Homo sapiens: one gene and its partner. The protein of the gene in region 1 interacts with the protein of each later gene in a pairwise test. Each region holds a gene or a part of one and is shown on either strand. Other genes may lie near its edges.

Region 1 (7,026 bases):
CTGTATCCTTAGTCTTTTCCAAATACAAGTTGCTGAATAAATGTTTCTTAAAGATGACTGATATGATTAGGCTTTGTGTCCCCACCCAAATCTCACCTTGAATTATAATCCCCATAATCCCCATGTGTCAGGGAAGAGACCAGGTGGAGGGAATTGGATCATGGCGGCGGTTTCCCCCATACTGTTCCTCGTGACAGTGAGTTCTCATGAGATCTGGTGGTTTTATAAGTGTTTGGTAGTTCCTCCTGCATTCATTCTCCTTCCTGCTACCTTGTGAAGAAGGTGCCTTGCTTCCCCTTCACCTTCTGCCATGATTGTAAGTTTTCTGACGCCTCTCCAGCCATGTGGAACTGTGAATCAATTAAACCTCTTTCCTTTATAAATTACCCAATCTCAGGCAGTTCTTTATAGCAATATGAAAATGGACTAATACAATGACAGATAGGCATTTCTACTTTCCCCCACTTTTGTAAGTATCATGAAAGTAAGGTTGTTGAGAGAAGAGAGTAAGTGAAGGGGAAATGGCAACAGTAAACTATAAAAAAGATTGAAGAGTGGGAATTCACGGAATCAGAAATAAAGATTCTGTTCCTAGAAAGTGAGTATTTGAGAATTTCCCATGGCAATACCAGCAGTAAGGACTCTCAGGAATGCTGGCACTATTCTTCAGTGGGCTTGGGGAGTTTGGTCAATTTCCTGGTTCCTAGTAGAATATCAGTTTATTAATTATATTTTTTTCATCAGGACTGCCCTCTCTAGGTCATGGAGAGATCACTGACTGTCAAGTCTAGTACTATTTCTTTTTTCTTTTTTTTTTTTTTGAGATGGAGTTTTGCTCTGTCGCCCAGGCTGGAGCGTAGTGGTGCAATCTTTGTTCACTGCAACCTTGAACTCGTGGGTTCACGTGATTCTCCTGCCTCAGCCTCCCAAGTGGCTGGGGCTAACAGGTGCATGCCACCACACCTGGCTTTTTTTTTGTATTTTGAATAGAGACAGGGTTTCACCACATTGGCCAGGCTGGTCTCGGAACTCCTGGCCTCAAGTGATTCACCCACCTTGGCCTCCCAAAGTGCTGGGATTGTAGGTGTGAGCCAATGCGCCCGGCCTACTATTTCTTTTAACTGAGCTATAATCCAGGATGGAAGAAATTAAGGAAATGCCCAGTTATTTGCCTTCTGTATATTGTGACTTCAGATTGCTTTTGGATTAAAATTCAGAGTTAGTAGGAACCTAAACCTGGCCATTCCCTTTTGGAAAGCACCTATCTTCTGTCTCAAAATATGTCTATAAAATGTCCATGTAGTTTTTACAGTCTCACCAAAAATCCTGTATCTAATGCTTATAACAAAGAGTTACTTCAGTTGAAGATATAGAAAGTGAAGTTGAGTCTCAGAATGCTTTCATAAATATTCGTTTGATTCAGTTACTTCTTGAGTGAATTTGCCATTCTAGCTTCTGAGTTGTTGCCCAGTAACACAATTGCAGTATAATATAGCAACCCTTGAAAACAGTAGCATTGGACTATAGGGATTTTCCTGATGAAGTTGCATTGCCTATCTCTGATGTTCATATTCAGCCTCTCTCAAGTGTGATTGCATTTTGTTTTAAGGCAGCTATTTCAGATATTGTTAAACTTAAGGGGCATGCAATATATGCTCTTAAGGATATTTTTTAGAGTACTGATGAATTATAACTTCTTTCACATTGTTTTCCACATAGAGATGCATGATAATGTGTCCGGAATTGGTTCATTCTGGTGGGTTCTTGGTCTCGCTGACTTCAAGAATGAAGCTGCGGACCCTCGTGGTGAATGTTGCAGTTCTTAAAGATGGTGTGTCCGGAGTTTGTTCCTTCAGATGTTCAGATGTGTCCGGAGTTTCTTCCTTCTGGTGGGTTCATGGTCTTGCTGACTTCAGGAGTGAGGCTGCAGACTTTTGCAGTGAGTGCTACAGCTCTTAAAGGTGGCGCGTCCGGAGTTGTTCATTCCTCCCGGTGGGTTCGTGGTATTGCTGGCTTCAGGAGTGAAGCTGCAGACTTTCGCAGTGAGTGTTACAGCTCTTAAAGGTGGCGCGTCCGGCATTGTTCATTCCTCCCGGTGGGTTCGTGGTCTCGCTGGCTTCAGGAGTGAAGCTGCGGACCTTCGTGGTGAGTGTTACAGCTCATAAAGGCAGTGTGGACCCAAAGAGTGAGCAGCAGCAAGATTTATTGCGAAGAGCAAAAGAACAGAGCTTCCACGGCATGGAAGGGGACCCGTGTGGGTTGCTGCTGCTGGCTCAGGTGCCTAGCTCTTCTTCCCTTATTTGGCCCCACCCACATCCTGCTAATTGGTCCATTTTACAGAGAGCTGATTGGTCCATTTTACAGAGTGCTGATTGGTCCGTTTTTACAGAGTGCTGATTGGTGCGTTTACAAACCTTTAGTTAGACACAGAGCGCTGATTGGTGCATTTGCAATCCTTTAGCTAGACAGAAAAGTTCTCCAAGTCCACACCGGACCCAGAATCCCAGCTGGCTTCATGTCTCAATAAGTATGTATTGAATTATTTTTTGTGTGAAGGACACGTGAAAATACTGGTTCAATTAAAGATTATTCTGGGCAGAAAAAGTATTATGTAATAACAGACTTCTCTACAACTGATATAGCCAGCCAGAGCTGGAGTGGATGAAGTTGAAATGGTTCTTTATAACATTTTTGTATTACTTCTAGAGCTTCATAGAAAGCTGAGATCACTAAGCACAATTTAATAGGTACTCTAATTTTTTTTTTTTTTTTTGAGACATAGTCTTACTCTGTCAGCAGGCTAGAGTGCAGTGGTGTGATCTCAGCTCACTGCAACCTCTGCCTCCTGGGTTCAAGCGATTCTCCTGCCTTAGCCTCCCAAGTAGCTGGGACTACAGGCACATGCAACCATGCCCAGCTAATTTTTTGATTTTTAAGAGAGACGGAATTTCACTATGTTAGCCAGGATGGTCTTGATCTCCTGACCTTATGACCCACCTGCCTTGGCCTCCCAAAGTGCTGGGATTACAGGTGTGAGCCACTGCGCCCGGCCTAGGCACTGTAATTTTGTGGGAAGAGAATTGTGATTCAGGAGACCAAGGCTTGACTGGGTGAGTCACTTCACCTTTCATGGCCTATTTTCTCATTTGAAAACATAAATCTCTGAAAGTTTCCTTCAGAAATGGTATGCTTCCAATTTAAAGCAAATTTTATTTCTCTTATATATGGGTTTAATCAATATTTGAGTGCCTATTATGTGTCTCATGCTATGCTAGGCACTGGGGAGATTGTGAATAAGACATAGTGCTAAGTCTCAAGCACCTTATTCTCTGATGGGAGAAATGGACAAAGTAATTAGTAATTTGTAATAAAGCATGTTAAATGCTATAAGGATAGATAAGAATGTGTTTTGGGGCATGTAGGAAGAATACCTGGCCTAGAACTAGAAAGAATACACAAAAATTGAGGAATGTCTCTTTAGAATCTTGTAAGTGTAGTTGTAGGGTGTACAGAGCAGTATTCAACTTGGCCCGGAGGAAGTTAGTCAAAGAAAACTAGGAAAACAATTCTTGAAGTTGGAGAGAGAGAAGAGTCATCAACGTTAGTGGTAGTTGAAATACCAGGTATAGATGAGGTTCCTAGTGAGAGTTGTGTAGAATCAGAAGAGAGCTTGTGAACACCAGCATGTAATAGGAAGGGGGAGAAAGAAGGTAGGAAAACCAGAGTAGGGTAACGTTTTGGAAACCAAAGAAAGAATGCACATCACATTTAGTTTATTGATTAAATGGAAATTGTTGCTCAAGAAACATTGAGTGTGTAGTCCTATAAATGTAAACCTATCTAAATAAAGATGCCCTCTACAAAGATCTGAACTTGCAAATGGGGGTAGTTTAAGTCCTTGTTTAGCAGCGTAACAGAGGAAAGAGTATGTACTTTGGAGCCTGGATCCTGAGAGTGAAGGTTAGATTACTAGCTGCGTAACTTTTTGAACCAGTTACTTAATTTTTTGGTCCTTAATGTATGGATTAAAATAAGGTAAGCTGTAAACTTGACTTTTAGTGGGCATTGTTGATTTTTATCCTTGCCATTATTAATGACTCTTCTGAACTACATACCCTTCTTTTCCTTCCCCATCCCCCGTCATATTCTTTCATCCTTCAAGATCCACCAAAATTCCTGCCTTTTCTTTGATATCTTCCTCTATGGATGATATTACAAATTTTCTGTAATGGAATGAACATGTCCTGTGTCCCTTAGAATTAGCAACGTTATTCTTTTTTCTTTTTCTTTTTTAAAGCCTTAAGAAGGAAATTGTATTATCTCACATGTAAGAAGTCTGGAGATAGGTGGTTCTAAGATTGTCAATTAAGTGGCTTAGTGATAATCTTTAAGAACCTGGATTCTTTTTGCTTGGTCATCCTTTGAACTCAGCCTTGATTACTACAACTATCAACAAATTTTCCAAAGTTTGGAAGAGATAACTTCTTTCTTCTACCTAGCCCTTTTTAAACAGCTTTATTGAGATATATTTTACCTACCATAAAAACCACTCATTGTAAGTGTACAATTTAATGGTTTTTAGCAACTTTATAGAGTTGTGCGACTGTCATCACAAGGCAATTTCTGACATTTTATCAGTCTCCTAGATTCTCTCAAGCTTATTTGCATTTAAGGTAACTCCTTCCCACAGCCCCAGAGAACCACTGATCTACTTTCTATCACTATAAATTTGTCTTTTCTACATATTTCATATAAATGGAATCAATACAGTAGTCTTTTGCATCTGGCTTCTTTAACTTCATGCTTTTGAGGTTTATTTAATGTATGTATATCAATGTTTTGTTCTTTTTAATTGTTGCATAGTATTCGTGTGTATTTTCCATTCACCAGTTGAATAGTATTGGTGAATAGTATTTCCCATTTACTGGTAACCAGTGAATAGTATTTCCCATTCACTAGGTGATAGACATTGGATGGTTTCCAGTTTTTGGCTGTTATGAATAATGCTGCTATGAAGATTTGTCTGTAATTCCTTGTGTGAGCATATGTATTCATTTGTTTTGGGTAAATTCCTAGGAGTGGAATTGTTGAATTATATGGTAAGCTTATTTTTAACTTTTAAAGAAACTGTCAAAATGTTTTCCAAAGTAGCTGTACCAATTACATCCTACCAGCAATGTATGATGATTCCAGTTTCTCCACATCCTCACCAACAGTTGGTATTATCTTTTTAATTATAGCCATTCTAGTTAGTATCTAGTAGTATCCCATTGTAATTTTAATTTGCATTTCCCTGCACAGTAATGTTGGACACCTTTTTCTGTGGTTATTGGCCATTTGGTGGAATATCTGTTTAAGGCATTTGCCCATTTTTTAGCTGGGTTTTTTTTTTTTTTTTTTTGGTCTTACTGAGTTGTAAGAGTTCTTTATATATGCTGGATGAAAGTTTGTATTGTTTTTAATATCAGAGATAAGATTTGCAAATATTTCTCCCAGTTGGTGTCTTGGCTTTTCATATTTTTACTGTTGTCTTTTGAAGTGCAAAAGTTTTTAATGAAGTCATTTCTTTTGTGTGTGTGGCACGTACTTTCATGTTATGTATACGAACTTTTTGCCTAATCCAAGGTCCCAAAGATTTTTCTTTGAGCTCCCAAAGGTCTTCTTTGAGCTCTTTCCTTTAAATATAAGATTCATATTGAATTAACCGTGCATTTGATGTAAGAAGAGGATCTAAGTTCATTTTTTAAAAATGTGAATGCCAAATTATCCAGTACCATTTGTTAAAAAGACTGTTCTTTTCCCTTCAATTGTATTGGCATCTTTGTAAAATATCAGTTGACTATAATGTAAGAATTTATTCCAAGACTCATGTCTATAAACCTATCCTTACTCCAACACTATTCTGTCTTGATTACTGCAGTTTTATAGTAAGTTTCAAAATAAGTAGTGTAACATTTTCTTCTTTTTCAAAATTGGTTCTATGCTCTTTCCATTTCCATATACAATTTAGGATCAGCTTGTTAATTTCTACAAAAACACATCTGATGTTTGTAGGATTTGCATTGAATCTATCCATCAATATGGGAAGAATCACTAACTTAACCATCTTGAGTCTTCCAATCCATGAACATGTAATATCTCTCCATTTACTTAGATCTTTCATTTCTCTTAATAATGTTTTTTACTTTTCAGTGTACAAATCGTGCACTTATTTGGTTAAATTTATTCCTAAGACTGTTATAATTTTGATGCTCTTGGAAATGGAGTTTTCATGATTTGATTTCAAATTGTTCATTGTTAGCACAAAAAAATGCAATCGTCCAGGCTTGGTGGCTCACGCCTGTAATCCCAGCACTTTGGGATCCAAGGCAGGTGGATCACGAGGTCAGGAGATCGAGACCATCTTGGCTAACACGGTGAAACCCCGTCTCTACTAAAAATACAAAAAAGTTAGCTGGGAGTGGTGGCGGGCACCTGTAGTCCCAGCTACTCGGGAGGCTGAGGCAGGAGAATGGCGTGAACCCGGGAGGCGGAGCTTGCAGTGAGCTGAGATTGTGCCACTGCACTCCAGCCTAGAAGACAGAGCGAGAATCTGTCTAAAAAAAAATGCAACCAATTTTTGCATATTGTTTGTACATAGATGATCATGTCTCAAAACGATACTTTTTCTTTCCAATCTCAATGTTATTTATTTCTTCATTTTTGCTTTAATTCTTGGGTTAGACCCTCCAGTAAGATGTTGAAGAGAAGTGTTGAATGTGCATTGCATTACTCCCAGTCTTAGGGGGAAAACATGCAGATTTTTGCCATCAGGTATAATGTTAGCTGTAGATTTTCTATAGATGCCCTTTGAAGAAGGTTAAGGAAGCTCCCTTATGTTCCTAGTTTGTTGCAAGTTTTTAATCATGAGTGGGTGTTAGATTTTGTCATGTTTTTTCCTGCATCTGATGATATGGTTATATGATTTTTATTGTTAGTATGCTATATATTAATTGATTGTTGGAGATTAAACCCACCCTGTATTCC
Region 2 (7,026 bases), on another chromosome or scaffold:
ATGGAAATCTGTTAATCTGGGAATCTGCTCTGAGGGGTTGGGGATAGGGACTAGCCTGAAGGTGCTACTCAGGGAATCTCTTTCTGGGTGACATGGGGTCTGTATTTGGGGGTTATTATGGGAGTATCTGTTAATAATGGGGCCTCAATGATCGAGGGCTGGCTAACAGGGGTCTCTACTCTGGATGTGTTACTGGGAATCTCTATCTCAGGGTGACTCAGGGCTCCTCGGGTGTCAGGAGATGCTAGTGGGGACTCTGTCTCTTTGTCAGGTGTCCAGGGCCTCTAAGACTGCATCTCCGCCCTCAGCATCCAGGGGAACCAGCAGCAGAACAGCAACCTGGAAAGGAGGATGACAGGGTCACGCCCTTAGGCAGGCAGCGGGGACATCTGCACCCATCACCCCCAGCCTTTCCCCCAGTGTTTGCTATCAGGCCTTTCTGGATTCTGCCTCTACCTCTCTGGCTGTGGTTTGTTTGTTTGTTTGTTTTCTGAGATGGAGTCTCACTCTGTCACCCAGGCTGGAGTGCCATGGCACGATCTCGGCTCACTGCAACCTCTGCCTCCCAGGTTCAAGCAATTCTCCTGTCTCAGCCTCCCGAGTAGCTGGGACTACAGGTGTATGCCATTGTGTCCGGCTAACTTTTGTGTTTTTGGTAGAGACGGGGTTTCACCATGTTGGCCAGGCTGGTCTTGAACTCCTGACCTCAGGTGATCCGCCTGCCTTGGCCTCCCAAAGTGCTGGGATTAAAGGCATGAGCCACCCCGCCCGGTCTCTAGCTGTTGTTCTGAGGCTCGTATGGAGTGAAGGGTGTTCTGCTTCCTTTACCGGCCCACCCGAAAGTGGAATTCACTAGAATTCAGTGCGGGGCCCTACACCCTAAAGACTGTTTCTGGGTATGCTTACAAGTCACAAGTTTTCCTAACCTCTCTTTCCAGCCCTGACCAGAGCTCCAGACCTCTGGGTCCAACTGCCTTATGGATCCCTCTCCCTGAATGTCACATAGGAGAGGGGACAGGGGTTGGCCACACACCTGGAAATGGAGTTCTCTGATGCAATGTCCTTTGGGGTCCGGACTGTGGTGAAGGTGCGTTTGGGCTGCGTCACTGAAGAGGAGGGCAGGATGTCAAGTGAGGGGATGACAGACCACCTGTGTCCTCAATACCCATCCAGACCCCTTCTCATTAATACCTCCCCATGTCTCCAGTCCCCACCTGGATCCTACATTCCCAATACCCATCTGGGCCTCTTGTCCATAATTCCCACCATGTCCCCCAGTGACTATCCCTGTCCCCAGTATCTGCTCAACCTCATGTCCCCGAAGAGCCTTGTTGCTAATTTCCTCATATCCTCTAGCACCTATCTTTTTGTGGACCTTGTCTCATCATTTTCCTGGACCCTGTGTCCCCAATTAAATACCAGAGACTGTCACCAGTATATACCTGAGAACCCATGACCCTTCCTCCCATCCCCAAACGTACACTCCTCCCAACATATCATCCCCTAACTCACTTGTCACTTGATGCACTTTTTTGGCTCCAACGCTGTCCCCGGGGGAATCAGTGGATCCGCCAATCCTGAGGAGACACGGGGAGGGGGAGAAGTCAGAGCCACAAAAGGCCAGGGTCTGACTGAGAGCTGGGCCCCAGGGATCTATGAGGAAAGGGCTGGGGGCTCGGGGGTGTCCACACTGTCCTGCTGGTCTGGGAGGAGGAGGCCATCTGAGGGGGGATCAGGGCTCCAGGTGGTGCCCTGGGTTTGGGCTGGAAGTTTGGGCTCACCTCTGAATACGGGATGCTGGTGCGAAGACCCCATGCCTCGGGGGGCAAGTGAAGTACCGGACACCGAAGACAGAGCCATCATGCTTGCCTGTGGGCTGGTCCAGCTCAATGCCATACCAGTAACCTGCAGCACGAGGGTGTCAGGATTTCTCAAGGCCCTGCCTGCCTCCCGGCCCAGAGTCCCCATCCTCACCTGGGGCAAAGTCTGTCTTCCCGTAGAAGCGCACGATCCCCTGCTTCTGGCCCGCGACAAGGACCTGGTCTCCAACCTCAGCCTTGGCCCCGTCACGCTGCTGCAAGCTGCCCAGAGATGGGGATGATGGGGTCTTCTTCTTGCCTAAGGGTAGAAGGTGTAGGAGGTGGGTAGTGGGGCTGAGGCCAGCTTTGGGAACCTCGTGCCACCTGGAAAACCCCAAGGTAGAAAACCCTGTTCTTCGTTTGAAGTGAAACTGAATCCCAGATGCCAGAGAATTAGGAAGGGGCTTTAGGCCTGAAGGGAAACTGAGTCAGAGAACCTGAAGAACCCCAAAATCCTTTCTCAAAGCTGAGGATATGTTGGATAAGGAAAAGCTGAGTCAGAAGTCAGGAACCCAGAAACTGTCCTTTTAAAATGAAGGGAAAATTGGGTCCGAGAGTAAATCAGGCCATGTGCAGTGGCGCAGGCCTGTAATCCCAACATTTTGAGAGGCCGAGGCGGGCAGATCACTTGAGGTCAGGAGTTTGAGACCAGCCTGGCCAACATGGCAAAACCCTGTCTCTACAGAAAAAAATACAAACATTAGCCAGATGTGGTGGTGGGCACCTGTAATCCCAGCTACTCGGGAGGCTGAGGCACGAGAATTGCTTGAACCCGGGAGGCGGAGGTTGCGGTGAGCCAAGATCGTGCCACCACGCTCCAGCCTGGGCAACAAGGCGAGACTCTTGACTCAAAAAAAAAAAAAAAAAAAAGTAGATCAAATGACAAAAGACAGGATCTCCAAGGATTCTTCCCTAAAACTGGGGGAGACCTTTGGGTCTGAGAGGAAACTAAGTCACAGAGGGCAGGGAACCCACAGGTCCTTCTAAGAACTAGGGGGTGCCAGTACTGAGCCAAAGGGGAAACTGAGTCACAGAAGTCAGGAACTCAGAGCTTGTCTTCCAAAACTGGAGTTTGGGCCTGAGGAGAAACTGAGTCACAGAAGCTGAGCTACCCACACAACATCCCCAAACTGGCTCTTCCCACCACAGGGATCCCCTCTCTGACCTTTGTGTTCCCTGCGGCCTTTGCCGGTGACACGGGAGAAGTCCATCCGGGGGGTCCGGGGTGTGGAGGTGACAGAGGAGGGGGGTGCGTCCACTGCCTTGGAGATCTTGGACACGGAGGCAAAGAGACCTAGGGGTACAGAATCCGAGCCTGGTGTTGTCCAAGCCTCTGCCCTCGGCCCCCATCCTCCATCCCCTATTTCCCAGTCAGCAGCATCAGAACTGCCGAGTGGACACCCAGCCACACCCCTCTTGGGCCCGAGGTCGGACTAACCCTGCTTGGGAGGGCAGATGAAGTACCGAACGCCCCCAACGCTGCCATCGTTCTTGCCCTCAGGTTCGTCCAGCTCCACGCCCACCCACTGGCCGCTGGCAAACTCCGTGGTCCCACAGAACCGCAGTGTGCCCGTCTGGGGAGAGAAGGGAGGCGATGGCTAAGGAAGGAATGCTGGGAGGCCAACGTGGAGTGCCCACACACGGGCAGCAAGGTGGGTTGCATGAGGCCGCCCTGGGCCCAAACCCCAGGTCACACATCACCATTTGCTGGCTACATGACTTAACCTCTGTGTGCCTCAACTTCCTTTGCTGTGAAATGGGAACAGAAATTATACTCACCTTATAGGATTGTTAAAGAGTTGCCCTGTCTCATATAGTGAATAGTGACTAGCCACATAGGACAATGTAAATTTATTTATTTATTTATTTTATTTATTTTTTTTTTTTTCGAGACAGCGTCTCACTCTGTTGCCAGGCTCGAGTGCAGTGGCACGATCTCGGCTCACTGCAAATTCCACTTCCTGGGTTCAAGCAATTCTCCCATCTCAGCCTCCCAAGTAGCTGGGACTACAGGTGCATGCCACCACGCCTGGCTAATTTTTGTATTTTTAGTAGAGACGGGGCTTCGCCATGTTGGCCAGGCTGGTCTCGAATTCCTGACCTCAGGTGATCCACCCGCCTCGGCCTCCCAAAGTGCTGGGATCACAGGCATGAGCCACCATGCCTGGCCAACAATTTAAATTTAAACTAAGGCCGGGTGTGGTGGCTCATGCCTATAATCCCAACACTTTGGGATGCCAAGGCTGGAGGATCACTTGAGGCCAGGAGTTTCAGACCAGCCTGGGTGAAAATGGCGAGACCCTCTAATCTTAATCTGTTCCAAAAAACAAAGACAGCAAGACCCTATTCTCTATAAAAGAAAGAAAAAAGGTAACCAGGTGCAGTAGCTCAAGCCTGTTGTCCCAGTTACTTGGGAGGCTGAGGTGGGAGGATCGCTTGAGCCCAGGAGTTCAAGGGTGCAGTGAGCTATGATGGTGCCACTGCACTCCAGCCTGGGCAACAAGCAAGACCCTGTCTCAAAAATAAATAAATACATACCTTAGAAAGAAGACTCAGATGATTTTTAAATTTAAAAATAAATAAATTTAGTCCGGGCGCGGTGGCTCACACCTATAATCCTAGCACTCTGGGAGGCCGAGGTGGGAGGATCACCTGAGGTCAGGAGTTCAAGACCAGCCTGGCCAACATGGTGAAACCCCCATCTCTACTAAAAATACAAAAATTAACCAGGCATGATGGTGCACGCCTGTAATCCCAGCTACTCGGGAGGCTGAGGCAGGAGAATTGCTTGAACCCAGGAGGGTTGCAGTGAGCCCAGATAGCACCACTGCACTCCAGCCTGAGCAACAGAGCAAGACTCTGTCTCAAGAAAAAATATAAATAAATAAAAATACAAATCAATACATTTAAACTAAATTAAAAATGCATTTCCCCAGTCACACTAGCCATATTTCAAGTGCTCAATTGTCACATGTAGCTTGTAGCTACTTTACTGGACAGCACAGACAGAATATTTCCACCATTACAGAAAGCTCTGTTGGACAGGGCTGTTATAGAGAAATTAAAGCCCTCAGAACAGGGCTTGGTATTAAGTAAAGGATCAGCAAGTATTCGTTATTGAAATTTTTTTTCTATTTTAGAGACAGGGTCTCACTCTGTGGCCCAGGCTGGAGTGCAGTGGTGCAATCATAGCTCAGTGTAACCTTGAACTCCTGGGTTCAAGCAATCTTCCCTCCTCAGTCTCCCGAGTAGCTGGGACTACAGGTGAACGCCACCAAAGCCTGGCTAATTAAAACAACAACAACAACAACAAACTTTTGTTAAAAATAGAAATGGAGTATCCCTATGTTGCCCAGGTTAGTTTCAAACTCCTGGCCTCAAGCGATCCTCCCCATCTTGGCCTCCCAAAGTGCTGGGATTACAGGTGTGAAGCCACTGTGCTCAGCCTGTTAGCTATTATCATGCTGTAACTTTGGTCAGGGGACTTATTGAGCCTCAGTTTCATCTGTAAAATAGAGATAGTAAGCCACCTCATGGAGTGATCATCTGGCGGAAACTTTTTTTTTTTTTAGACAGGGTCTCACTTTGTTGCCCATGCCAGGGGTGCAGTGGCACGACCCTGGCACAGTGCAGCCTCAAACTCCTGGGCACAAGTGATCCTCTCACTTCAGCCTCCCAAGTAGCTAGGACTACAGGTGTGCGCCACCATGCCTGATTAATTTTTTCATTATTAGTAGAGATGAGGTCTCACCATGTTGATTGCCCAGGCTGGTCTTGAACTCCTGGGCTCAAGCGATCCTCTCACTTCAGCCTCCCAAGTAGCTAGGACTATAGGTGTGTGCCACCATGCCTGGTTAATTTTTTCATTTTTAGTAGAGATGAGGTCTCACTATGTTGCCCAGGCTGGTCTCGAATTCCTGGGCTCAAGCGATCCTTCTGCCTCAGCCTCCCAAAGTGCTGGGATTACAGGCATGAGCCACCACATTTGGCGGAAACATTTTTAACACATGTAAACTTGCTTAGCTGCAGTGAGACTTTAGTGAGTGTGGTTATTATCATTATGGGAGGCTCATTCACCTCTCCATGCCTCAGTTCCTGGTCCATATAATAGGCTAATTAATTAGTGCTGATCTTTTTTTATTTTTATTTATTTATTTTTTTTTGGAGACGGAGTCTCACACTTTGGCCCAGGCTGGAGTGCAGTGGCATGATCTTGGCTCACTGCAAGCTCCGCCTCCTGGGTTCATGCCATTCTCCTGCCTCAGCCTCCTGAGTAGCTGGGACTACAGGCACCTGCCACCATGCCTGGCTAATTTTTTGTATTTTTTTTGTAGAGACGAGGTTTCACCGGGTTAGCCAGGATGGTCTCGATCTCCTGACCTCGTGATCCGCCCACCTCTGCCTCCCAAAGTGCTGGGATTACAGGCGTGAGGCACCGCGCCCCGACAATTAGTGCTGATCTTAAGAGTGTTGGTGGAGGGACTAGAACAGTGCCTGGCACACACAAAGAGCATTTAGTATGCGCTGGACTCTGTTCTAATGGCCTTACGCATTTTAATTAATTTAAACCTCAACCAGCCCCCTAAGGTGGTTACTATTATTATCTCCATTTACGGATGAAGACATTGACACCCAAAGAGGCAGAATCACTGGCTCCAGGTCCACAGGTGGGAAGTTGCAAAGCTGAGATTTACCTGGGCAAGTCCCTGAGCCTGAGTTCATGACGCTGTGCTATGCTGCTTCTCTAAGGGGCAGTGATTAGTATTCCGTGTCTTCAGATAAAGGTTTTCACCTGTTGGAGCCTCTTATAGTCTGGCTTGTAAAATGGGAAGAGTCAACCCAACCTTCCTTCTGAATTGTGCAATGGATATGATTAGATCGTGCACAGCAGAATGCTTTCTGGATGGGGCCGGGCGCAGTGGCTTATGCCTGTAATCCCAGCACTTTGGGAGCCAAGGCGGGCGAATCGCTTGAGGGCAGGAGTTTGAGACCAGCCTGGCCAATATGGTGAAACCCGTTGCTACTAAAAATAAAAATAAAAGGCCAGGCGCGGTGGCTCACGCCTGTAATCCCAGCACTTTGGGAGGCTGAGGCGGGCGGATCACGAGGTCAGGAGATCAAGACCATCCTGGCTAACACAGTGACACCCTCTCTCTACTAAAAATAC

What was found. Proteins that work in one complex are often made in the same cells at the same time.
Region 2: the proteins of CEP83 (region 1) and CLIP3 interact in binary tests that used the Homo sapiens proteins (3 or more experiments, as listed by UniProt).

What each region holds. Positions count from the first base shown.
Region 1 is NC_000012.12:94,449,843-94,456,868, reverse strand, and holds part of CEP83 (centrosomal protein of 83 kDa), read left to right. Parts: intron 1-7,026. UniProt on the Homo sapiens protein: Component of the distal appendage region of the centriole involved in the initiation of primary cilium assembly.
Region 2 is NC_000019.10:36,015,874-36,022,899, forward strand, and holds part of CLIP3 (CAP-Gly domain-containing linker protein 3), read right to left. Parts: intron 3,512-7,026; exon of another isoform or gene 3,434-3,511; coding exon 3,298-3,433; intron 3,154-3,297; coding exon 3,025-3,153; intron 2,119-3,024; coding exon 1,975-2,118; intron 1,906-1,974; coding exon 1,782-1,905; intron 1,578-1,781; coding exon 1,513-1,577; intron 1,107-1,512; coding exon 1,034-1,106; exon of another isoform or gene 939-1,033; intron 340-938; coding exon 285-339; 3' UTR 1-284. UniProt on the Homo sapiens protein: Functions as a cytoplasmic linker protein. Involved in TGN-endosome dynamics. May modulate the cellular compartmentalization of AKT kinase family and promote its cell membrane localization, thereby playing a role in glucose transport in adipocytes.